Regions from separate parts of the Homo sapiens genome. Here regions 2, 3, 4 and 5 are each linked to region 1. Evidence: fine-mapped expression QTL. A gene starts in region 1. Each other region holds a variant in brackets. All regions are shown on one strand. Distances are from middle to middle. Region 1 holds the start of MICU3 (mitochondrial calcium uptake family member 3). Region 2 overlaps MICU3 (mitochondrial calcium uptake family member 3). Region 3 has its middle 16 kb from the start of ZDHHC2. Region 4 overlaps MICU3 (mitochondrial calcium uptake family member 3). Region 5 overlaps MICU3 (mitochondrial calcium uptake family member 3).

Evidence for each region. PIP is the estimated chance that this variant, and not a neighbour inherited with it, causes the effect.
Region 2: its variant is fine-mapped to the expression of MICU3 in whole blood (TOPMed, PIP above 0.99).
Region 3: its variant is fine-mapped to the expression of MICU3 in whole blood (INTERVAL, PIP 0.99).
Region 4: its variant is fine-mapped to the expression of MICU3 in whole blood (INTERVAL, PIP above 0.99).
Region 5: its variant is fine-mapped to the expression of MICU3 in whole blood (TOPMed, PIP 0.99).

The regions. Positions count from the first base shown.
Region 1 is chr8:17,023,078-17,029,197 of GRCh38, forward strand. MICU3 (mitochondrial calcium uptake family member 3) reads left to right here and starts at 4,161. Exons shown (of 15, transcript NM_181723.3): 1 at 4,161-4,583. The coding sequence starts at 4,203. RefSeq lists a silencer at 4,139-4,548 and an enhancer at 4,699-4,788.
Region 2 is chr8:17,047,576-17,052,575 of GRCh38, forward strand. The region is part of intron 1 of MICU3 (mitochondrial calcium uptake family member 3); the gene reads left to right. Among named protein-coding and RNA genes, the nearest start is that of MICU3, 23 kb to the left of the region's middle. The variant G/A (reference allele first, on the strand shown) is at 2,934.
Region 3 is chr8:17,137,405-17,143,643 of GRCh38, forward strand. It overlaps a transcript of MICU3 not described here. Among named protein-coding and RNA genes, the nearest start is that of ZDHHC2, 16 kb to the right of the region's middle. The variant C/T (reference allele first, on the strand shown) is at 3,084.
Region 4 is chr8:17,064,366-17,069,365 of GRCh38, forward strand. The region is part of intron 2 of MICU3 (mitochondrial calcium uptake family member 3); the gene reads left to right. Among named protein-coding and RNA genes, the nearest start is that of MICU3, 40 kb to the left of the region's middle. The variant CTA/C (reference allele first, on the strand shown) is at 2,152.
Region 5 is chr8:17,078,487-17,083,486 of GRCh38, forward strand. MICU3 (mitochondrial calcium uptake family member 3) reads left to right here. Exons shown (of 15, transcript NM_181723.3): 5 at 3,207-3,254. Among named protein-coding and RNA genes, the nearest start is that of MICU3, 54 kb to the left of the region's middle. The variant T/C (reference allele first, on the strand shown) is at 2,675.

The sequences.
Region 1 (6,120 bases):
TCCTATGTTGACCTCCACCTTCCCCCCTTTTCAAGACATTGCTTTTCATTTAGTAAATATAATTGAGGTCCTAATGTGTGCCAGGAACTGGGCTAGAAGATGCATACCCTGGCCTCATGTTGCTTAGAGTCAGCTTGGCTTTGCCTAATGGAAAAAGGGTGAGATACAGATCACAGTCTTTGGGAATGAGAGCTCATCAAAACAGAAAACAGACCCTCAGTGTCTTGTGTAACTTGGTTTCCATAGCCCTGGATGCTGAGGAATTGAGTTCTAGATTGCTGGTGGGTAGCACTTTGAAGAAAACAGAGCAAGAACATACCTTCCCCAACACTGTCTCCTATGTCAGTTTTGCCCTAAGGAAGACAGCATGGAAGGTGGAAGGCAATTTGAGAAAATGATGACAACTTTCCCAAGAGAGAAGAAGATGGTTGCAACCTTGCTCTCTGCTGGTAGACTTGAGTGGACCTGGGGATGGGGTGGTTCATGTGCCCTGATACAGATCTCAGATGTAACTGCTGCTCTTTTAACTAGTCAAGAATCTGGAGCTCAGAATGACCAAAATAAGGAATGCAGTATATTTTAATAGAAGTTTTGTTAAACAAGACATTCCTGCCTATTGCACTTATATTCCACTTTTTCAAACTTTTCAAAATCACTAACGTATTTGCAATTTTAAATGCAGTAGAAGGTTAAAATAATTAGATAAAGGAATGGATTTTTTTTTTTTTAAACATAGTCTTGCTCTCTCACCCAGGCTAGAGTGCAGTGGCTCAGTGATGGCTTACTGCAACCTCCTTTTCCCCGGTTCAAGCCATCCTCCTATTTCAGCCTCCCGAGTAGCTGGGACCATAAGCACGCACCACTATGCCTGGCTAATTTTTGTATTTTTTGTAGAGACGAAGTTTTGCCATATTGCCCAGGTTGGTCTCGAACTCCTGAGTGATCAACTCACCTTGGCCTCCCAAAGTGCTGGGATTACAGACGTTAGCCTGCGTGGTCCGGGGATGGAATTTTAAGTTGAAAGAATAAAACAATCTTAGGCCAATTGTAGATTTTCAGAAGAGAAATGATACATGAAAAATACCATGAAGTATCTTTCTATGGTTTACTGATACACTTGGAGCATTTTAGTTCATTAGAAAGATGGGTTCAGGGGTGATCATCTATTTCAACTCCACTATTTTAGAGACTGTGGCTTCCAAAGCATTATAATTAAGATGCAGCAAATCCAAGACTGGAGTCCAGATTTCTTCACTTCTAATTTATTACTTATTCACTGAGGTATATGCTTTCCTGGAAAACCCTTTTTGGCTTAATCCCCATTGTTTGAAACATTTTTATTGTTTCAGAACATTTCTTTTTATTTAGACCATAGTGAACGATAAGTGGATATTTCTTTCAAGGTGTGGGCTCTCACTGTGGAGTAGGGGCATTTTGGGGGTTATTCTTAATGCTCAGTAGAATTGACATAAAAGATAAGGGATACTGGGTTGACTCTATATTGATCCAACAATATTACCTGAAATTTCAAAAAAAAAAGGTTCCAAATTCCTAATATCATATTTTCTTAAAATTTTTCCTCTGGGAATTAAACTCAGAAAAATATCCACATAACAAGGGAATTTGGTTATTTTTGTGTAGCTATAGTTACAGAGCATCAAACGTGGGAAGAAAACAGTAACTATTCTTAAGGAAATTTCACCTTTAGAGGGAAAGTACTGTTGAAAATTATTAGTAAAGCTGTTTTTGCACGTGAGAGGTATTTTATCCAAAGTTCTCTGACTGATCTACAAACATAAACTTAGCCCTTCTCACAGCAGTACTTAGCTTCTAACCAGATAAATTGTTTGCAGGAGCTCTATCAAATTTAGAAAACTATAGAGAAACTACATAGAAATCTATACGTATGTGTCTGTATTTGTCATCTTAGATGAAGGATGTCATTTTCCTCATCTGTAATGTGATGTTATTGTATTACCTCCCTAATCTTCTTTAGAACTACTTAGCTTTTAACATGCAACTAGTAAAAATTGATCAGTTTGTCCAAGAATTCTGGCATTAGACTATAATAAGAATTTATGAGAAAATCAGGAAATCATGTTCAGTTCAAAGTAAACAGTGTCAGAACTATTATTATAATTTTTTTTTTTTGAGACAGAGTTTCGCTCTGTCACCCACGCTGGAGTGCAGCGGCACAGTCTCGGCTCACTGAAACCTCCACCTCCCGGGTTCAAACAGTTCTCCTGTCCCAGGCTCCTGAGTAGTTGGGACTACAGGCGCATGCCACCACACCTGGCTTTTTTTTTTTTAAGTTTTTTGTATTTTTAGTAGAGATGGGGTTTCACCGTGTTAGCCAGGATGGGCTCTATCTCCTGACCTCATGATCCACCCGCCTCGGCCTCCCAAAGTGCTGGGATTACAAGTGTGAGCCACCACGCCCGGCCAATATGATTATTATATTATATATAATATATATAATTATTACCCAGAAGATAATTTATTTGGGGAAACTACCATTTCACAGAATATAGAGAAAGCATAAATTGAGGAAAATTTGGTGATAAAGCAAGACGCTATCAGAGTCTTCCTTAGGCATTGACTCCATAAAACCCACAGGCTGAAACTGAAGAAAACTCAGAGACAGGTTTTAAAATACACAAAATTTGTTCATCTGCTACAGAAGATTTTTCTTCTTACCGCTTTTAGCAGCTTTAAGAAAGCAAAATGCCATTAACCTCTATTAAAATAAGAGGTAACAGGGTGTACCTGATGTGCTATTTACATGCAAGGTGTTAGGAATAGAAATTGCAGGACCTCCAGGAGTTCGAGGCCAGCCAGGCCAAGATGGTGAGACCCCCATCTCTACTAAAAACACAAAAATTAGCCAGGCACGGTGGCGGGTGCCTGTAATCCCAGCTACTCGGGAGGCTGAGGCAGGAGAATCGCTTGAACCAGGGAGACGGACGTTGCAGTGAGCCGAGAATGTGCCACTGCACTCTAGCCTGGGCAACAGAGCAAGACTCCGTCTCAAAAAAAGAAAAAAAAAAGGGAAGAAATTGTAGGACCTGAGCCAGAAAAAACTCATTTGGTCGTCTCTGAAAGCCTTTAGTCTTTACAAGAATTGCCAGAATCAACTGATGGTGTATTCTCTTGTCACTGCAGCCCAATTGAGACCACTGTATTTAGTTGTCTGTCCCCTTAGATCCACAATATTTTAGGGACTCCTGGCACCATTCCATAGTAGGAAGAAAAAGCTAACATAATTCAAGTTACCAAAACTGGGGTCTGGGGAGAGAAACTGATAGGAACTTCATCTACACTTTCTCATAAAAACTGATACTGATAACATAGCAAACAAAAAGTACAGTAAAAACAAAAAGATGACACAATACGCTTCTCATTTATTTTATATTTATACAAACAGCGCTTCCCTGAAAAATCAGGGTATCGTTCAAGATTTTATCTTTATTCACAGAAGTTTTAAAATTTTTAACTTTTATATGCACAAGACAGTTCTGATTTGTTGAATTAAGTGACCGCGGGTGTGCTAATGCTTCTAAAAAACAGCATTAGCCTTCTCCCATCAAAAGTCCGGAAGCTGCCCTTCAGTCGTCAAAGTGTTTGCCTTAATTTGCAATCGTTATGACTTGAGCCAAATGCTTATACCTCATTTGTGTCGTATATGTGAAGATACAATTGCAAATCGTTCACGACCTTGAGTCAAGACCTTGAGTTTCCTGAGGTCAGGAGACCGTTAGGGAATGTGAGTGTCCCAGACGGGCGCTGAGCCCAGCTCGGAGACCCACCCCGCCCGTAGCAGCGGCGCGGGCCCCAGAGAGCCCCGCACTCGGCCGCGCCTCAGTTACGCTGACTCGGCTGTGCCCGCAGTGTCGCGCTGTCGCGTAGCCAGGTGTCGCCGGGCTGGCGCGGTTATTTATGACTGCGTGGTTGGGCTGGGGGTTCGGGGCCGGGGAGCAGCCGGGATCCGCCGCCTCTTCCATGATCTTCCCGGGCCGAACCACGGGACCGCTACGCTGAAGGTGGCGTCGCGGGTCCCCGGGGCCGCGCGAGTGTAGGGGTCGCTCTCGGCCGGCCGCGAAGCTCGCGGCACCGACTTCTCGCGAGATTTCGGCGACCCCCCCCCCCGCCCCCGCCCCTCCGTTCTCTGCCCCCTCCCAGCTCTGGTGTGGGCGGCCTCCGCTATGGCTGCGCTGCGAAGGCTCTTGTGGCCGCCACCCCGGGTGTCTCCTCCACTCTGCGCTCACCAGCCCCTCCTTGGGCCGTGGGGGCGGCCTGCGGTGACCACCCTGGGCCTTCCTGGCCGGCCCTTCTCCTCCCGAGAGGATGAGGAGAGGGCTGTGGCGGAGGCGGCATGGAGGCGGCGGCGGCGCTGGGGGGAGCTGAGCGTGGCGGCGGCGGCCGGCGGGGGGCTGGTCGGCCTGGTATGCTACCAGCTGTACGGGGACCCCAGGGCCGGCTCGCCGGCGACCGGGCGACCCTCAAAGAGCGCGGCCACGGAGCCCGAGGACCCGCCCCGCGGCCGGGGGATGCTGCCCATCCCAGTGGCGGCTGCCAAGGAGACGGTGAGTGCGCGAGCGCGCGTCACACCTGCGCGGGGGATGTGACCTTCGTGCCGGGTACGCAGGACCCTGGAGGCTGTGGGGACGGTGCAAGCGCTGTGGCCGCGGGTGAGGAACTTCCCGTGAGCGAGGCTGACACCTAGGCCGGACAGCCTAGGATCCGGTCACCCACGTATTGGGAAGACCAGTGATGCTGTCCCTGATGCATCAGGACCTTAAAGGTGGCTGCAGCTACCAAGTATCAATCCAAACCCAAAACCAACACCCCTCCCCCTCTTACAAAAAAAGATTCAGAAATGAAGGCCATGACAGGCAGAAAGTGGACCGCTGTAGGTGTGGGAAAAAGGAACTCCTAGATTGCGCGGGGCGACAGCTAATGACCCAGGAGGTCTGTTGCATTAGAATGAGTTTCGAAGCAGCGGTCTGAGATCTCAAAAGCCACTACTTTAGCATATGAGAATTTATTAGTCCCAAGAAAGGAAATGCTAAACCTGCATGCTAACGCCCTTATCATACCCAGGGAATGTTGATGTTACCAGGTCTGAAAAGAAATAAAAAATTGTTCAAAAAGAGACATAAGTATTTCTCTCTTTTTCCTTCCCCCACTAAAGCCAGAATCCCGTTAGTAGGTAACGATAAAACACAAAATGGATAGGATAGCAAATGTAGGAGGCTGTGAATGACACAAACTCCTACAGAAGAAAGTCACGTGAAAATGTTCAACTGTCATTATGTAGTTAATAATACAAGGTAAAGATGTGTGAAAGGCAACAGTGAGTAAAGGAGCGTGATTTTTTTTGTCGCATCAGTATATTTAATAGTCATGTAAATGACTAGGAAAATTAAGGAGATTTTCCTTGCAAGGCTCGAAGAATGTGAACGGCGTAGATGAAAATAATTTAGAAAACAGAGAGCTATGCTGTTTCTAATGCAATTTTTATAGGCTTTGTTCTTAATACGCAGTGGTGATCTGATGTAAGTGCATCATTTCCTTTGGTGGAGGTTGTCAATGCAATTAGGTTACGGAATCTGCTTTATGGACTATCTAGCAGCAGATCACAAGCACATAACATAAAGTCCTTTTACACATGAATATTCAAAATACTAGGAAATACCCTCAAATCTCCACCCCCTCCCCCTTCACAAATACACATCCACTTTTGTGGCTTGGCAAGGAGCATAGCGTTTTTCATGATGGCAGAACTTTTAATTAACCATAGTTGGTCTAGGAACAGATCAGCAAGGTAGGGAATTCAAGTAGTATTTTCTTTTCTTTCTTAAAATTAATTTTACTTTTACAGTTGAGAGATGTTATCTTGCAGTTTTTAAAAAGACCACGTTCAGAAAGCTAGAACTTTGGCTCCACGACTTGCTACTTGTGTCATTATGGAGAAATTACTTGACCTGTCAATGCCTGTTTCCTCACCTGTGAAATGAGGCTAATAGTCTCCTGGGGTGTTATGAGAGTTAAATGAGTTAACACAGTATATTTAAAACAATGGTACTACTAAAGAACATTAAATAAATTTATTTTTTGGCT
Region 2 (5,000 bases), 24 kb after region 1:
GAGACAGGACAGACTTCCTACAAAGGGACTGCAGTTGACCTGATTATAGACGAATCCATCGCAACAGACAGAAGCCAGAGGACAGTGGGCTATATCTTCAAAAGTGAGAGAAAATAACTGCCACTTAGATTTCTATACCTCGGTAAGTTATTTAGGAATGAGAACAAAATAAATTTATTTTCATAAGAGACTGAGAGTTTACCAGTATCAGATCATCATTGAAAGAACCACTGAAGAGTGCATATCAGGAAGAAATGAAATGAATTAACATAAAAAGGGGTGAAATTCAAGAAGCAATGGAGAACAAAGAAATTAGTAAAAATGAGAGCAGTTCTTAACCATTGATTGTATACAACAACAATTATTATTATTTTAAAAGAAGTTACAATGAAGTGGATTTCAAATAGTGAACAACTGATACGCAAGATAGTGGGCCATGACGAGTTAAAGTGTTTCATGGGGGAAACCAAGATCCCTTCTTCATGTCATAATTATCCAGGTGGATTAGAATCCTACATGTGATAAGTAAAACTTTGAGATATTTAGAGGAATATATATGTTTCGATGTTCGAAACAAGATAAAAAGCAAAACCTAGAATGGAAAATATTACTACATTTCACTTCATTTAAAATATTTAATAAAATAAAAAGAAGTCCTGGAATGGAAAAAGATATTTATAGTACATAGCCCTCACAAGGACTACATATCCTAAATGTGTAGATCTACAAATTAATAAGAAAAAGAAAACACGATAGAAAAATGAAATAGAAATTCACTGGCCTTAAAGAAGGCAAAGGAGTAGCAAAATCACATCTTACATGGAGGCAGGAAAGAGAGCATGTGCGGGGGAACGCCCCTTTATATAAAACCATCAGATCTGGTGTGACTTATTCACTATCACAAGAACAGTGTGGGAAAGACCCACCCCCATGATTCAGTTACCTCCCCTTGGGTCCCTCTCATGACACATGGGAATTATGGGAGCTACAATTCAAGATGAGATTTTGAATTGAATCTTCTTCACAACTACCACTTCTTTATTTCATTTTATTTTATTGAGACAGGGATTCACTCTGTCACCCAGGCTGGAGTATGGTGGTGTGATCACCCCTCACTGCAGCCCCAACCTCCTGGGCTCAAGATATCCTCTTGCCTCCGCTTCCTGAGTAGTTGGGACTACCTCATACATCACCACACCCAGCTGATACATTTTTAAAAAAATTGTAGAGACAGGTTGCCACTGTGTTGCCCAGGCTGGTCTCAAACTGCTGGGCTCAAGTGGTCCTCCCACCCCAGCCTCCCAGAGTGCTGAGATTTTCGACGTGAGCAAGGCACCCAACCTGTCTTTGAACCTGGCCTGGGTGCATATACTCTGTAATATGCTGGGAATTTATGAGCTTATTATGGATCCATGCAAATAAACAGTACACAGTTCTGTATTTCGGGGATGGATAACTTACTCCATTTCTTTGAACGTCAGCCGTTTTCTCTTCTTTCATAAGTAACTGAATATTTCAGACTGGGAACATTTCAGACTTTTCTCTTCGATGATGAGACTAAATTTCTAAACAATACTCTTCAAGTAAAAATTTTAACCCATTTATGCCTAGTGTTCCATTGTATCCTGGGACACTGAGCCAGGAAGACCGAGGGAAGGGTGGTAGAGCATGAGGCAGTGAAACCCACAAGAAAAAGCCAGACAGTAGGAATAGTTTTATCTCCTTGGACATATTTGGAGAATATCTAACTTATAGTGCCACAGAGGTTCTAGATATTTATAAACTTTGTGCCTGGAGTTGAGTAGCCAAACACTATTTCTGGACCTAGCTAGTTAATAGTACATCAAGAGGTAGAGTCTCTTGATTCTGTGGGCCAAGGGAAAAGGCAGTATTTGCATGTAGTTTTCATTTAATCTTTACAGTTTGTGGGCTTAGTATTTATTTGTCCATTTTATAGTTGAAAATGCTAAAGTTTGCAGAAAGTTAAGTTATTTTTCCCAAGGTAACCTAACTAGGAAGGGATGAAGCTGGCATTTGAACGTAGGCCGGAAGGATTGCAAAACCCATATACTTTCATTCCAATATAACAAGTTGTGTAATGTGAAAAAACACTGGGTTGTGTGTTGTAATACTGAAGTTCTGGTCCCAGACCCATTTGCTGCCTGTGTGACCCTGTTGAAGGCCCCTATAGATTAAGTTAACTCTTTTGTACAGTTGCACTAATAATATATGTCTGCTTGCCTTTTAAAAAATAATACTCCATTCCAAAATTTATCTACATCTTTACATACATATATTCCTATAAGACATGAACTTTTGTTTTTTTACTCATTTTTCTACAACCTGTTTTTTTCACCCTAGTGTGTATCTTGTGACTGTTTCTATGGTAGCACCTCTAGATCTACCATACCCCTTTCCATAGTCACAAACTATTCCATGGGTGTGCCATAATTTATTTAACCATTGTCCTGCTGCTGGAAATTTTGATTGTTTCTATTTTTTCACTATTGGAAACATGCTGCAGTGACTATCCAGGGATCTTAAGTACATGCAAATATTGAATTGTCGGATCTATAGCTATTAAATTTTAATAGAAACTTAAAATTATCTTTCAGAATGGTACGCTAAGATTTACTTCTACATGTAGTAAGTAATGAGCAGTTTTCTTACAAGTGCTGTATCCCTGAACAATATACATATATTTTTGTGAATTTTAAAAATAATATGTCCTTCTATAATGTATATATTTTATTTAATATTATATTTAGGAAATTTATACATATTGACACATGTACTTCTAGTTAATTTACTTTCACTACTGTAAAATATACCACTTTATTAATATTTCATTAAACTGATATAATTTCCATTTTTATTGATATTTTTGTGAAGATTGATAAATGGTCAGTTTATATAGTCCCTGTTTATTAAAA[G/A]CAAAATTAACAAGCACCTTATTCTGTTACTCAGATCCTTTTTCTTATTTGGCTTCTCTATTTGATCTGTCCATTTCTAGTTGAGATCTATTCAAGTCTCAGCCATGATTGTGAACTGATAAATTTTCATTGCTATTCTCTAACAGTTTTTCCATTATGTAATTTTAAGCTGTTTAGTTCATGTGTGTAATATCTTTTTGGTGAGTTTTTCTTTGTCCCATTTAATGCTTTTGACTCTTAATTCCATGTATTTTTTAACATTCTGGGTAATGTTTAACAGTGACTCTTGTAGGGGACATTTTTATGGCTTTTTAAAAAACGCAGTATAAGAGTTGCTCTTTTTCAATGGGGGGGTTTAAACCTATCCTATTTATTGTGATTGAGAACATGTTTGCATTTATTTTTGCTGTGTTATTATGAGCATGTGTTACCACTTTATCACCTGGCATTAGATTGGTCCAGTTTCTTATTATTTCTCTCCCTCGAGTAGTTTGAAAGTCATGCATCCTGTTTCTGGTCTTCAATTGGTTACACATAACATTTAAATGGTTTTTTATATACATCTGAAACTTGAGGAAAAATCAGTATCAGAAAATTTTTTATTCCAAAAAAGTTCATTGAACATGTTTTATTACATGGCCCTCCCCACCTTATATTTTTCTGAAGTCAGCTACAGTATTAGTACCACATAGGTATTGGTTTTTTAATATTATGTTTTAATTTTTTTATATTTTAATTTTTAAAGCAATCACCATTTAACAATTATAGTAAGCTTTACACCCACATTCACTTATTCATTTATTCAGCAAATAGTTGAGAGCCTGCTAGAAGCCAAAAACTCTTCTAGGCACTGGGGAAACTAAAGTGTACCAAGTAAACAATTCCTGCGTTCATGGAATTTATATTGTGGAATGCAGGAGACAAATTTTGTATTTCTCAGCATATTTATAATATTTGAAGGCTAGATGAGATCATCAAGTGGGTAATTGTAGATTTAAAAGAGGAAAGGAGGTCCAAGGATTGGCCCTAGGGCAGTGTAGTTGGGAAGTACCAGCAAAAATACCAAACAGGAATACCCAGAGGGATAGGAGGAAAAGCAAGACAGTGAAATCTTACAAACAGAAAATAAATGATTTCAAGGGGAAATGAGCCACCAACTGTGTCAAATGCTATAAGAGGAAAACTGAGAAGTGACCTTTGGATTTAGCAACAAGGAGGTCATTGATGACCTTGACAAGCAGTTTTGGTGGCATGGTAGAGAAGAGAGCCTTGCTGGAGTAAGATCAAAAGAGAATGAGAGGAAATGTAAACAACACTCTCCAGTAGCCTTGCTGTAAAGGGAAGGAGAAAAATGGCAGGGAGGAGAGCAAAGGTAGCTAAATAGAGAGGAGGGACAGGGCACTTTCTAAGGTGGGAGGAATAGCACCGTGCGTTATGCTGAAGGAGAAGTATACAGTGGAAGAGGAAAAAATAGGTTGGCAGGGCCAGGGCAGTATTGCTGAACCAAAGTCTGAATAGGCAGGAAAAGAGGAGGTCTACATGCTGAACCACTATGCTATACTGCCTCTAGAGAAAAAGACTTTCATTTATGTCATCTTTCAATCAAATAATGAGATGATGTATGTGAAAGTACTTTATAAACTTGTAAAGAACCCTATAATGTAAGCTACTATAATAATACAAGTAGAGACTTAAATTTTTTTTTGTTTTTTATCATGATACATAATATTTGTATGTATTTATGGGGTGTGTATGATATTTTGATACATGCATACAGTATGTAATGATCAAATCAAGGTATTTAGGTTATCCATCCCCTTGAACATTTATCATTTCTTTGTGTCAAGAACATTTCAAATCTTCTCTTCTAGCTATTTTGAAATATTTGAATTTTATTATTAATTACAGTCACCCTACTGTGCTATTGAACTCTAGAATTTAATTTCTTCTATCTTACTGTGTTTGTACTCATTAACCAATCTGTCTTCATTTCCCCAACCCCCACTCACCCTTCCCATAGTCTGGTAACTATCGTTGTACAATTAGAGGCCTTAAAAATTATAAATG
Region 3 (6,239 bases), 110 kb after region 1:
GAATGATATTAAATAGCACATAAAAACACTACGACAAGTTGAGAGAGACAGACCACGGAAGGAAGAAAAAAGTTTTATATTTAATACCTTAAACCACACTATTTCCTGCTTTTTTTTAAAAAAAAAAAAAAAAAGGGGGCCCTGTATTTTCATTTCACACTGGGCTTCAAAAACTATGTAGCCCATCTTTTCTTGGGATATGGAAATTTGGGCCAGTATCCAAGTGTGTAAGTATGTCTAAGTTTGGATAAATACAGGATGGTAAGAAACAGACAAGGGAAAGAGTAATATTTTCTTTTCCTTTTTTTTTTTTTTTTTTTTTTTTTTTTTTGAGACAGAGTCTCACTCTGTCGCCAGGCTGGAATGCAGTGGCACAATCTCGGCTCACTGCAACCTCCGATTCCCAGATTCAAGCAGTTCTCCTGCCTCAGCCTCCTGAGTAGCTGGGACTACAGGTGCGCACCACCACGCCCAGCTAAATTTTGTATTTTTCGTAGAGACAGGGTTTCACCATATTGGCCGGGATGGTCTTGATCTCTTGACTTTGTGATCCGCCTGCCTCAGCCTTCCAAAGTGCTGGGATTACAGGCATGAACCACCATGCCCAGCCAAGAGTAATATTTTCTATTACATGGAAGTGGATTTTGATTTTCTCAGAATTATAATGGAGGAAGGAATATTAAGATGGTAAAAATGCTCATGATACCAAAGATGTCACCCACATAGTGATAAACTCTTAAGAGAATTTGATGTTTAAAGAGTTATGATGTCTGATCTGATTTCTTGAGTTTCATCAATAAGAATGAGGGACTCAACAACCAAATTCCAAAGAGGTTTGCATTAAAAAGGGTGTAACTCCAGCAGAATGTAAATGTATGTAAAATAGATAATAGCAAGATGTTATAATGTTTTTATTTTGAATGAGGCAGAAGCTGTTTCGGAAAAAAAGAAATAGAGGTTTAAAGAACACAGAACATACCTTCAACCGTCATGGCAGGGTGGTGGACCACGAGGAAATGACTGTGACAAGTCAGCTAATCTTGGAACAAATTAGGGAAGGAAATGATGAACAACAGCTGCAAAGAAAAAAATGCAAGAATTTGCAAATGATGTCCACTTTGTCTTTAATTTACCCAATGCTGGAAAGAATACTGGTCACCTCACTTTTCGGTAATATACGCACCATCGTCTTCAGACACAGAAGAATGAGAAATAATTAAAAGTCACTGAGACGGCTCTCACCTCCTGTACTTCATTATCACACAATGTCTTGCTAGAGAGGCATTTTCATTCCAGATGAATATGTGGTTGATTAGCGCTTTTCCAAAAGCAAATTGTCTGAGGTTCTCTGTACTGCATTTCCTGGTACCAATTCCTCATTAAGGTGATTCATGAATTTTTTTTCAATTAGGTTCGTATGTCTTTTTAAAAATCAATTTGGTGTCTACCTTTCAACTAAATGAATGAGCCAGTGTATCATTCAGACAGGTGTGGACTTGCATAACTATTAAGTTAAATGAGCCTTTCATAGAATTGAGAAAATGGGCAAGGATTAAAAGTGGAATCTGAACAGGAATCACTATTTCAAAAAGAACAAATTAGAAAATATGAATAAACAGGTGAACTACATGAGCCCTTCCATTCAGAATAGCATGGCGGGTAAGCATGGGCTCTGGAGTCAGACTTCTCTGAGTTCCAATCTTGGCTCTTTTGCTAACTTCCTTTGTAATTAAACAAGGTCGTAACACTTTCCACCTCTCAGCTTTTTCATGTGTGAGATGAGATCATGATAGCAGCTGTGTCCTTGGGTGGTGGTGAGAATTAAATGGGAAATCGCCTTTAAAGCACTGAACTGAGCACACAGTAAACATTTAATAAACGTTAGTTCCTATTATTCCTAAAATAATACTATTCATTTAGAATCACTTATTAGTAATCAATGCTAACTTGACCTTAACGATTAAAATAAAGATAAAAATTCATGGGCTATCGAAACCTATAATGTGGTACTCATTATTCAAGTGGAATGAAAACGCTGAAAAGAAAATGTTTTTTCAAAATTTCATCTGGCAAATATTGCCAAATAGTTTAAAGCAACCCTACATGTTTTTTCCATACCTCATTATCCTGTGCCATGAGGGGGAAGAAAGGATGTATTTTAATTGTTGTGACCACCTTCATCTATTGAAGTCTTGATTTTTCAGGCACCTCCTTCGTTTTATTAAATATTTTATGCTGTGCATGTGAAATATGTAGTCCATGTACCCAGGGATATTTCTGTCTACTAGTTTTCCTTGTTCCTAAAAACAGAAATGAGGAATGCCTACGGCTAAAAAGAAAAAAAAAACTGTCTTCCTGTCAGCAGCTCCTTCTGCTGATATGTCACCGATGCCAAATTATATATTCACGTAATTTGCATTTTCCCACTCTTAGTTTTTTTTTTAAATCATTAGGTCAAAAGCTAAAATACATTCCTTTTTATAGCAGAAAATTGCTCCTGTTTGTTCAAAGCCAATTTGAAAGATTTGATCATCAGAAAAACATATATGTGTCTATATATAATTTCTAAATTTGGCTTCAAACCCCTACTTATTTAGTAGTGCCACACAATAGCTTTTTTTAATGTAAGATTTTCCTTTAAGAAATGGGAATAAAGCTCTAGGTATTTATTTTTTGAAAAGTGCTGTTTAATCCTGTGCTTAGCATAGTGCCTGGTATTTGATAGATAACAAATATATATTTGTTGAAAAATAAGTGAATGAATGAATGAATAAGCAAAGTAAGGCATATCAAGCCTGAAAGGTAGATATAGTCTGCTTGACTTTTCCTTTACTGCTTGACACATTTCCTAACTTTTTCTACCTCCTAACATTAAAACAAAAATACAATGACATACTTGAGAGTTTTCTAGTAAGATGCATGTCCCAGCAACTAAAAAGCAACTCCAGCCGGGTTCAGTGGCTCACGCCTGTAATCCCAGCACTTTGGGAGGCCAAGGCGGGTGGATCACAAGGTCAGGAGATCAAGACCATCCTGGCTAACACGGTGAAACCCTGTCTCCATTAAAAATACAAAAAATTAGC[C/T]GGGTGTGGTGGCACGCGCCTGTAGTCCCAGCTACTCAGGAGGCTGAGGCAGGAGAATCGCTTGAACCCACGAAGTGTAGGTTGCAGTGGGCCGAGATCACGCCACTGCACTCCAGCCTGGGCGACAGAACAGGACTCTGTCTCAAAAACAACAATAAAAAAAGCATCTCCATGAGATGGATTTTTTTCTCGGGTACTAAATGCTGATAGTAGCTAACATACAGTCATCACATATATTATGCATATAAAATGCTTAGCATATATATACATATATAATGCCAGATACTATGCTGAGCATTTTATGCACATACTGTTATTAATATCCTCAACATTCCTATGAGAGAGTAGATAATATATGCCCCAGCTCATATCTGAGGCATAAAGAAGTTAAGTAATTTCCCTAGGGTTATATAGCAATAAGGATAAAACCAAGACTCAGACCCAGGTTGTCTAATTCCTGAGCCAAGCTCTTAACCACCATGATGAATTCCTTACTGTGATGCAAGAGTACTGGGAAGTAAACAGAGGTGACTTCTAAGCCATGGAAGAGGTGCCAGTGAGACTATGGTTTGGTGGGAAATTTAGGACTCTTGAGCAGTGCTGTGGAGCTGGAGCAGAATGGGCACGAGGTATCGGGAAAAGACGGAATATTAAAGCGAAGAACTGGATTGGGGGAAGGCGTATTATTGGCCTATATCTAGGGTCATATAATTTATCATCCAAACCGGGACACTTTTGAAAGTGAAAAGGGACTCTATTCAGAATTACATCAAGACAGTGCTCCAAACTGGGACTATCCAAGCTAAACTAGGACATGTAGTCATCTTTCCCATGTCCCTCTCTTGCTAACTTATTTTTTCCTTTCTTCCTCTCTTATTCTCTTCTCCCTTTTCTCTCCCTCTTCGTCCTCCCTATGTCCCTCACTGGCTCTTTACATGTACCTTAAATGGCAGTAATTTGTTGCGTTTAACTGGAGTTGGGATGCTCATTAAGTGCCTCATGTTCGAACCGAGTTAAACAAATGTTCCAAAACAATAGTTCCGTTGTTGCTGTATTATTTATCTATTGCGGCATTGCAAATTACCCCAAATTGCAGCTGCCTAAGAAAACAAACATTATTTCCCACAGTTTCTGAGTCAGTCAGGAGCAGCTTTGCTGGGTGAGTCTAACTCAAGGTCTCTCCTGAGGGTGCAGTCAAGCTGTTGGCTCGCACTACAGGCATCAGAAGGAATGACTGCAGCTGGAGGACTGACTTCCAGAACACTCACTCACATGGCGACCCCCATCCTCTGCTACATGGCCCTCTCGATGGGGCTGCTCATGACAACAGGGCAGCTAACTTCTCACGGCTCAAGTGATGTGAGGCTGAGGAGGAAGCCGTGGTGTCTTTTTTTGAACCAGTCTTTGAAATTTCCCACTATTAATTCTGCTTTATTTTATTCATTAGAAGTGAGTCACTAAGTGCTATGGTCTGAATGTTTGTGTTCTGCCAAAATTCATATGTGGGAACCCTAACCCCTAGGTGATGGCAGCGTTTAGGGGTGGAGCCTGTGTTAGTCCATTTTCACGCTGCTGATAAAGACATACATAAGATGGATAATTTATAGAGAAAAAGAGATTTAATGGACTCACAGTTCCACGTGGCTGGAGAGGCCTCACAATCATAGCAGAAGGCAAAAGGCACATCTTACATGATAGCAGGCAAAGAGAGAGTGAGAGCCAAGTGAAAGGGGTTTCCCCTTATAAAGTCATCAGATCTCGTGGGACTTATTCATGACCACAAGAACAGTATGGGGAAACCGTCCCCATGATTCAATTATCTCCCACTGGGCCCCTCCCACAACACGTGGGAATTATGGGAGCTATAATTCAAGATGAGATTTGGGTGGGGACACAGCTGAACCATATCAGAGCCTTGGGAAGTGATTAGGTCCTGAGGATGAAGCCCTCATGAAAGAAATTAGCACCCTTATAAAAGAGGCCCCAGCAAGCGCGTTGGCCACTTCTACTATGTAAGAGTACAGAGAAAAATCATCTTTGAGGGAACCAGAAAGCTGGCCTTCACCAGACATCAAATCTGCCAGTGGCTTCATCCTAGACTTCCCAGCCTCCAGAACTGTGAGAAAGAAATTTCTGTTGTTTAGAAGCTACCTAGTTTATGATACTTTATTATAGCAGCCAGAATGGACTAAGACACTAAGTCCACTCAGCACTCAAGGGTAGGGGATGAGCCTTCACTTCTTGAAAGGCGAAGTATCAAAGAATTTGTGCACATATTTAAAATCATCACAGCTACATAGTTTTTCAAACTGACTCTTTGATTTAATTTTACTTCTGGGGCCCTGTCCAAAGAAAACAACTAAATAGAAGGGGAATGTTAGATGAGCCAAGTTATTTATGGTATGTTATGCCAGTGAAAAATTAGAAAACACCTACATAATTAACAATAAAGGAATGGTTTAATGAATTATAGTACTTCTACAGAATAGAATACTGTGCAAATATTTAAAATTATTCTAGACTGGGCATGGTAGTAATCCCAGCACTTTGGGAGGCTGAGGCAGGAGGATCACTTGAGCCCAGGAGTTGGAGGCTGCAGTGAGCTATGATCATGCCACTGCACTGCAGCCTGAATAACAGAGCAAGATCCTGTCTCAAAAAACTTTTTTTTTAATTTAATAAAATAATTCTGAAGCCTGTATAGCAGCATGAAAAAAATGTTTGTAATGAAATATTTATGAGAACACAAAATTGTATGTAGGCTATCATTTCAACTCTAAAAAGAAAACACACAAAAAGACCAGATGGAAACAAGCTAAAATAACAATGGTTGTGCTAATTGGTAAAATCATGGGAAGTTTTTATCTTTCTCTGTTTTCAGAGTTTCTGCTCTATAACTGTGATGTATTGTTCTGCTATATATAATTTTGTTATTTTTTATTTTAAAAGAGATAATTAAAGATAATATTGACTTTCTAAATAAGGAATTCAGTAGGCTTTTTTTTTTTTTTTTTTTTTTTGAGACAGAGTCTCGCTCTGACTCCAGGCTGGAGTACAGTAGTGTGATCTCGGCTCACTGCAGCCTCCGCCTCCTGGGTTCAAGTGATTCTCCTGCCTCAGCCTCCTGAGTAGCTGGGACTACAGGTGCCTCCCACC
Region 4 (5,000 bases), 41 kb after region 1:
TCAGTGTTACAGACTGATATTTCTTACAAACTCTTACTCACATCTCTTCTCTTTTCAGAAACTTTCAATTGCTCCATCTTTCTCAGCTTAACACCATCTTACTTTTGATACTCTTTATAAAAGACTCATATTCTGCCTCTTCATTCTTATATCAAACCTGAACAGAGTAGTTCAGAGGACTGGCTTTGAGGTTAGCCCTGGGCAAGAATTCTACCTGTATCTCTTCTGCGTTTGTCATAGCTCCTGCAGTGTAAATATATTAATAGTTTCATTGTCTCTCACCTTTTCATATGTTAGAATAATGGTTCTCAAAATTTTTGGAAGTATGTACATTCTTGCAAATCTCTTAATATCTAACTTAACAGAAGACAGCTGTATTCTCATGTGTGCTTTTTTATTTGATCTGTTATAATATGTTGTTTTCCATGAAATATATGAAGAAAATCTACCTCACAGACATGGACAGTAAAAAAAGGAGTATTTTAATTGCCTTTTTAGATTATTATAGGTACTCTCCTTTGATACTGTATCACAATTGGCTGGTGGTAGTTGCAGCTTCAAAAGTCTCTATAGATGGTGGTAAAAGAGTAATGAGAACCGAGGATTTCTGGCTGGCTTACCTGGATGGATGGCACTAGGGACCAGGTTTGAGGAGAAAAATCACAATTTCAATTTTGGTCATGTCTATTTGAGATACCTTGGATATATAAAAGGATACAGTGTATTTTTTTAAAAAATAATTCATTTCACTTCACTGAAAGATCACTCACTAAAAATCAGTATAACAAATAATCATTTGTTCGACCCATATCTACTTTAAACTGTCACACAAATACTTTAACTTAGACTAGAACAATTATAGCCATTTTTTCCTCCAGAGACAGCAATATGGCAAAAATGAACCTTAAAATAAATCCTCAATAATTTGACAAATTGGCTACTTGACATAGTAACTTTTAATGAATTTTTGATTCTTTGGATTATTTCCACTGGATATCAAGGAAGAGATTCAGGTATATATTTAGGATTCATCTTTGCATTATTGCTAATTCATAGAATGTGTATGAATGAAATTGCCTAGGGAAGCTGTATAGGATGAGAATATAGATAACCAAAGACTAGGCCTTGAGGAATTTCTGCTCTTTAAAAGATGAATGGACAAAAGGCTTTGAAAGGATGAGAAAAGGGGACATAGGAGTGGCCAGAGACATAGGAAGAAAATCATAAGGGTATGTAGTCATGGAAGCCGAGTAAAATAGCCAGAATTGCCAATTGAGTGCAGTGTTACTGAGAATTCAAGTTAGATAAGAACAGGAAAATGTCCACTAGATTTAAAAACATGAAGGTTATTGATGGTTTTTTAAAATGATGTTTCAGTGGAGTCATTAGGGCAATTGCAGGAGTGAGTAGCAGATGAAGAAATGAAGACGATGAGTGTAAAGGACTCTCTTACAATATTTGATTGCAAAAGAGAAAGGAACTGAAAGGTAGCTGTAATGGAATTTGAAGTAGACACTTTTGATTATGCAAGATTTTAAATTAAAAAAAAGATTTTAACAAGAAACTATGAGAGTAACGTTTAAAGAAATGTAAACTACATAAGCAAAAACATGAAATCAAGACAGTATATGGTATAGTCATAGTAGCCACTTTGGGAATATGTAGGGCCATATAGTGATGGGAAAGGTGAAAAATTAAGTAGAGTTCTTTTTTTTTTTATTTACGAATTTTAAGGCTGTGATAAGTGTTATATCCTTTTTATTTAATCCATTTGGTACAATGTAGATTCTTTATTAGTGAGTTAGTATAGATTTAATACTAATTTGCTAATAAATATAGAGACCATGTTGTACCAAATCAATTAAATAAAAATGTATGGAATATTTATATGTCTGCTTCTGTATTAAGGTTCTTTTCTGTGTGCTAAGGGGGATACAAAGTCTGTGCACTCAGGAAACTTACGATATTATAAGACGACGTAAGATACAGAACCATCTCCAAGGTAGAATATGGTTACCTGGCACATGATAGGTACACAATAAATATTTCTTGAAGGAAGGAATTTGTTAGATGCTAAATGGTATTTTATATCAAATTCTATAATTTTTTCAAACATATTTGAAAGCTATTCTTTAAGTGATTGTTAATAAT[CTA/C]TATATATATATATATATATATAGATTTTTTTTTTTTTTTTTGAGGCAGGGTCTTGCCCTGTCCCCCGGGCTGGAGTTCAGTGACGTGATCACTACTCACTACAACCTCAACCTCCGAGGCTCAAGTGATCCTCCCACCTCAGCCTCCCAAGTAGCTGGGACTACAGGCACATGCCACCATGCCACCAGCTAATTTTTTAAATTTTTTTGTAGAGAGAGGGTTTTGCTATGTTTCCCAGGCTTGGCTTGAACTCCTGGGCTCGAGCAGTCCACCTGCCTCAGCCTCCCAAAGTGCTGGGATTACAGGCGTGAGCTACTGTGCCTGGCCACAGTTTCATATTTTGAAAAATTTTACTTCATTATTTTCTAGAATTTTTTTCTTCAGAATACATTCACTGGAAGCACACTGTTCGATTTTGCTTTTTGGAAATAACTTTTGTGGTGATTCTTCTCATAGATATTTTAAAACCATAACTTAAGAGTAAAAAACTGGTTTCTATTATAGAAAAGTTATACAGGATATTTTACAACCACAACTTCAGTTAATTTCTAACCAGCACTTTTCAAACATAATTAGGAACAATCACAAAAGATCAAGATATTCATAAATCCTGTTTTGAAAGTTGGGGTTTTAGAAAAGGAAAAGAATAGAACAATGTTTCATGTACTGAGTATTAAATCAGATATGTTAAAACTGTAGCGTAATGAAATTTGACTTGTGTTTAAACCTTGGCATTTACTGGCTTTGAAAACTTGGTTATTTAATCTTCTGTTTCCTCATTTATAAAAATAACAGCCTCATGAAGTTTTTCTTGAAGATCGAATGAATTATGGTTAGTATAGTACCTGGCACACAGTAAACATTTAATATTGGTATGTCATCATCATCGTCATCAGAATTCATAGCCATGATTTTTTTTTTTTTTCCCCAAGAGGAGACTCGCTCTGTCAACTAGGCTGGACCGCAATGGGGTGATCTCAGCTCACTGCAACCTCCGCTTCCTGGGTTCAAGTGATTCTCCTGCCTCAGCCTCCTGAATAGCTGGGATTACGGGCAGCTGCTGTCATGCCCAGCTAATTTTTGTATTTTTGCAGAGCTGGAGTTTCACCATGGTTTAACCATATTGGCCAGGCTGGTCTCAAACTCCTGACCTCAGGTGATCCTCCTGCCTCGGCCTCCAAAGGGGTGCAATTACAGGCGTAAGCCACCATGCCCAGCCCATAGCTGTGATAATTTTTAAGCAAATATTTACACGGCACACCATTTTTTTCGCTGTTTAAAATCATAGCCATTATTTTTGAAAGTTTTTGATATCATTTTATGATGACATTCAACAGGGAAAAAATGGTATGCTGTGTAAATATTTGCTTAAAAATTATAGATCAAATAAATGTTGAGATATCTGTTGATTATGATTTTGCATTATAATCTTATTTTGCATACTTAAATAGAACCTAAATGGTGACTTTCTTTTCTAGAACTAAAATCAGTAATTATTTTCCAACATAGCATCAAGAATTATTTTAATTTAGATTTTTAAAAATATATTAAATTTTTCAGACATACAAAAACGTATTAAAAATATAATGAACATCAACCTACAGCTTAAGAAATAATATTTCCACTAGAATTGAAGTCCTTCTTCACCTAAGTTATATTTATATGTGCAGTAACTTCATATGAAATAAGGAATTCAGAAAATCCTTTGAAGAGCAATCTTAATGGCTCTTTAGTCTTTATTTAAAAAGATAATAGTATTGAACATGGTGACATTTCCGACAGAATGAATATGTCTTTTGTGAATAATTTACCATGGAAATCTCATAAACCCTGCAAAACTCAAGAGTACCTCTAACTTCCTCTTCCGATAAATACCTTCTGAGCATTGCATAAGAGCACGTGCATGTACTTTTCTACCATTTATTTTTCTTCTTTCCTTACTGCTATATTTTAAGAGCAACAGAATAATAAATACTATTTGTATTGTTCTGTTCATTGTTAAAAGGGAAGTGTCTTTGCACCAGTGTCATAGTTAAGTTTACATGCTAAATTCTAATTTGTAGACCTGTGATTTGAATCACTTGATTACACATTTGTATCAACTATCTTGGATAGATGAAGGATGTTGTTGCTACATAAAGAAGAAATCTATCCTTAGAAACATATTTCTTCTCTTTTGATTTTAAATTGAGTTGTTTTGTTGCCTAATAAAGAAAAAACTACACAGCAAAAATTGCTTTTTTTGTAATTTTGAATTTGATATATTGTTAATTATACAGAAATAGCCCCATTGCCAGGTAGAAGAAGATGTTGGTTGGCATTATTGTAATGTAGCTGAAATAATTAATATTAACCAGTTTCCTAATACAGCTGTATTACAGGGCTTAATCAAATGTAAACCTGGTGCTAATTCTTAGGCAGGCATTAAATATTTACAGTGTTCAAATGTGAGCAAAGGAAATAGCAATACTGACTATACATTTGTCCCAACATTTTAAGTTTTACAGTGTTTGAGATCTTTGGGGGTGTGAGGAGGAATCACAAAAAGAAAGTGATCCCTGACATTTTATTCAGCTGTAACACTCTTACTCCAGTGATGCTTCTTGAATAGTTGTAGGGAAGAGTAATGAAACAGGACAAGTTTCCCCATCACTTTGCCTAGCCTCCCTTTCCTTTCTTTTTTTCTTTCCCCAATCCTTCTTCATCCTAGAGAGACCTGACCTGTGAATTACGTCATGGAACACTAGTATAGCAAAGATCACAAGTAATACCTTAAAATTATAGTTTATCTATGTTAATGTTATTTTATATTCTAGTTTGAATATTTTATAAGTATCATTATTTGT
Region 5 (5,000 bases), 55 kb after region 1:
ACATTTGTAGAAAAAATTTATTAATCTTTTTAATCTTAAAAAGTAATATTTCTTGGAAATGTATTTTTTGTATCCTCAAATACAGGAATATGCAAAATAAAAATGTTAAAGAAATTACATAAGCAGTTATATTTTCCCTTTTCATCAATTTTAACCAATATTGGCTTGAAAATAATGTACTTCAGCCTGAAGACAAATACTTTGAAGGAGTAGTTATAATTCATATATTTTATTTAAGTAGAATTAGAAAGTTCATATTGCTTCCACGTGGTTTACATAGAATCTGAAAGGAAGAGACACCATATCTTTTATTGTAGGTGTTTCATAAGTAAGATTTTTAAATCTTCAAGAAACCTAGGCCAAAGTGTCTTAAAAAAAATCTTAGAAATTTTTTTCCTAGATGTTGTCTTAAAGATTGCCATTCAGATCTTAGGGTGAGATAATAGGATGAGGAAAATTCAAAGCTCATAAGGATCAAGTAAGTATGGTGAATTTCAAACATTTTTCTTAATATACCTCATGGGAAAATACAAATTGGATCAAATATAATCTGAGAAAAATAATGCATAGAAGAAAGAACCTTTTTTAAGTTAAGGGGAGGGTTTAATCTGGAAGTCCTAGGTTTAGGCATATCCTAATCCTTCTCATGTTATACACATGTTTGCATTTTTTTCCCCAGGGGATAGAATCTATGCTGCACCACTATGACGGAAATACTCTGTTTCTATGCTGTCTCTTATGGTAGCTACTAGCCGCATATGGCTGTTGAGCACTTGAAATGTGTCTAGCGTAACTGAGGAACTTATTTTTAGTTGTATTTGATTTTAAGTATTTTAAATTTAAATAGCTACACCCTGTAGTACAATGCGTATCTGTATCATATTAATTAGATCATCAGGGTGATGCATGATCCCAGAAAGTTTTAGAATCATTAGGTTAGGTAAAATAGAGAAGTTAGAAGAGCCTTGCTTTTTTTAAATAGCGATTAAGTGGCAGAGAAATTTTAAGACTAAATCTTTAGAGCTATTGAAGACTAATTTTATTTTTATTTTTGTTTTATTTTATTTATTTATTGAGTCAGGGTCTCATTTTGTCACCCAGGCGGGAGTGCAGTGGTGCCATCATGGCTCATTGCAGCCTTGACCTCCTGGGCTTAAGCGATTCTTCCCCCTCATTTTTTGAGTTTTTGTAGAGACAAAGTCTCACTTTGTTGCCCAGGCTGGTTTTGAACTTCTGGACTCAAACGGTCCTCTTGCCTCGGCCTCCCAAAAGTGCTGAGATTATAGGTGTGAGCCACCATGCCTGGCTAAAGACTAATTTTAAAATTGTAAGTTTATCTACTTAAAATATTACCTCGAGAGAAAATGTTATGCATTTAAATAATAAAAAAATTGATATGCATTCATGAAAACATGTATTGTAGAGACTTAATTATAACAGCCAACTGCAATGTATTGTGTATAGGAATTAAACCATGTAATGCTTTTAAGGAACTTCCCTTAAAATTTGTTTTGATTGAATTTTCGAAAGAAACCTAGTTGGCATCTTTCTTATCCTCTGTTTCTAAAGATCACACCATTACTATATGCCTAGCTTTTTTTTTTGTATTTTTTGATCCTGCACGCCATAAATAAATTGAAGAGTTAGTTTTATAGTATTCTGTTTGTATAATTGGAAAGCATTAAAAATATACCGTTCATCTTCAGTAGTATTTTCTCTTTTCCTTGACCATTTTTATTAAATTATAATATATCATGGGTTTCACTTCATTTTTCTTCCCTGTGGTTTAAGCCACTTCAATCACCATGTGATCCTACAGACAAACGCCTACCATGATATTCATGGTCTGGACACTCACTATTAAGTAGTCCTTTCCTTGAGGGAAATCTTGAGTTAACTATCAAATAAAAGATGCATAACAGTTATTAAAGTTCTTTATACCAACCAACATCTCTTGTGTATTCTACCAGGTCAACTAGAACAACAGTTAGTGAGATGGGATTATGGAGACAGCATGCCCATTTCCCATCCCATTTCCTTTTCTCGCCCCTTCTTTTATGCTCTTCTTTCATTTTTTGAGGGATCCCTACAGACTCTTAAGTATTGTATCTTTATATACATTGACCATTCCAGAATCTTTCTCCCATAACATTCATGGCAATCAACCAGAACTATCTGTCTATAGGTCACAATATTCTAGTATAAACAAAAGAAGGGAATGAATGCTTTCAGGGCCTCCTGGCTAGTGCCCTTCATGTCTCTGACAAACTGCCTGACAGTGACTCCTCTTCTCTTTGTTCTGTAACAAAGAAGACAGCCTCAAAGAACATCAGATAAAATGGAGTTTTAAAGTTCACAATCTGGTTATTTTAAGGATTTTTATACCCTTTTACCAAGCGTCAGAACTATCTGATATCTAAATAAGTATTGTAGATACAGATTACTGATGTCAATCTTCTCAGTATCTACTTGGAAGGTCAGTTGAAGCACTAAATCTAGTTTTGGGTTTTGTATTCCAAAAGCAAGAATTCAAGTAACAGAATGCACTTTTTTATTTACTTCAAAAGCACTCCTTTTGAAATTTGCAAGTATGGAGTTACTGAGAACTCAGGATGCGATGTACAGAAAGTATAAGCCATTTAATTACAATAAAAACTCCTCAGGGTACATTTAA[T/C]AGAAGCATTGAAGATAATTTGAAAGCAGAAAAGTGGTAACTATAGAGCTTTACTCTTAAAATGCGAAACATCACATTTCTAAGTAACAGGGTCTAAGTGTTTTATCCAAGTGTTACTAAAAAGTAATTAAGCACTTTACAGTGTTAATTAACTATTTCCAACCTTTTTATTTTTACTTGTTTTTTCCTTTAAGCTCTGTTGGACTTGACAACTTTTTTATTTTGTGTTAAGAGTCGTACATTAGAAACTAGCAACAAGTTTAAAAGTTACTGCTATACGTATGCATTATAATTTTGCTTTTTTTGCCAATATATTTGAGAGCATAATGATTTTATATGGATATCTACAAAGGCATGTGGAACAATTAAAGTAAAATTAAATTTGTTGCTTCTTTTGTTATGATTTTATAATAATGATTGTCATTTAAAATAATATCTAGCATCTATTTTAAACTACAAGCTCATTATTTATAGCATTTATTGCTTCTAGAACAATATTTTATATATATAACTGATACTATTTTTCTTGTAGGTGTGATTTCTTACACAGAATATCTTTTTCTTTTATGTATTTTAACAAGTAAGTATACTTATTGCTTTTATTTCTGGATGCAGCTTTATTTTTTAAACGAATCTTGGAAAGCAGATCTTAGGTTCTCTTACTCTTGAAAATCAATATCCATGCTGTTCTGCAAAATTCATGTTTAATGCTACAGAAAAATGCTAAGCATAGCACTGTAAAGAGTCAAAAACATAAATGCTACAGCTTATGGTATAGTAATAAATGCTCATAAATTATAAATTTAATATTACGTGTCAATTCTTGTGGTTTTAATCTACCTCAGACTCCAAAGGTCATGACATGTAATAATTTATAAATTCCCTACTGTACTCATTTGAATCATATTTTCTGCCAGACTGATGTGAGAGAGAGTGTCTCTTAACTATTGAGTCTATCAGAATACCCATCATTCACATCTAAAACTTCTATTTTCTCCCTGTCAGGTGCAGCATTTCTTAGGAAATATATGAAGGGTTTACTATGTTTTCAGTTAAATTTCTTTGCATTTAATGGAGACAATCTGTTATAGTTTACTGTGTTCCAGCCACCTGGCCTTTCTATTCCTTGAATTGCCGCCTCAGGGATTTGTACCTTCTGCTTCCTGTGCCATCAGTACTTATCCTCAAGATCCCCGTGATAATAAACATCATTTAGGTTTCCTTTCAAATGTGAAAATTTAGCAAATCCTTACTTGGCCAGCCTCTCTAACATAGCTCCCTCTCTCTTTGTATCTCTTTACTGCGTTGCATATTCTTCATATCAGACTATTTGAAAGTATTATTGGTTTACATGTTCTTGTCTCCCCACACTTGAATGCAAGGTCCATTATGGCAAAGATTTTTTCTTTTTTGTTCATCTCTGTATCAAGAACAGTGTCTCGCACATGGTACCCTTCCAAAAAGTAGTTAGTGAATGAATGAAGAAAGGAATACATGAAAGAATACTGCTAGTGGAATTTCCAGTTGTGGAGATATGTGGAGATGCATGGAAACAAGAACATCAGTAAAACTCTGTCATTAGAAACAATCTAAAAATACCTTGTACTTCTTTGATTAAAAAATTCACACCACTGTGTTATTCTTAACTTTGTAACTTAGCGAGGAATGACGTTAACATTGAGTTCTGTTACAGTAAGTTTTGAGAACAAGGAATGTGTACATGCACTCACATATGTGTATTTCAAAAAATATTTTTTTCTCTTGGACTTGTCACCTTGCTCACTGACTAGACTGAGCCAATTTATCAAGACGGGAATTACAACAGAGAAAGAGTAATTTACACAGAGCTGGCTGTACAGGAGACTGGAGTTTTATTTTTACTCAAATGAATTTCCCGAGCATTCAGGGATCAGAGTTCTTAAGGATAATTTGGTGGGTAGTGGGTGGGTGAGTCAGGAGCTCTGGTTGGTCGGGTCAAAGATGAAATCATAGGGAGTTGAAGCTTTTCTCTTGAGCTGAGTCAGTTCCTGCGTGAGGACCACAAGACCAGATGAGCCAGTTTATCGCTCTGTGTAGTGACAGCTGATCCATCAAGTGTGGGGTCTGCAAAACATCTCAAGCATAGGTCTTAGGTTTTACAATAGTGATGTTATCCCCAGGAGCAATTTAGGGAGGGTCAGAATCTTGTAGCTCCAGCTGCATGACTCCTAAACCATAATTTCTAATCTTGTGGCTAATTTGTTAGTCCTACAAAGGCAATCTAGTCCCCAGGCAAGAAGGAGGTTTGTTACGGGAAAGAGCGCTTATCATCTTTCTTTTAAACTAT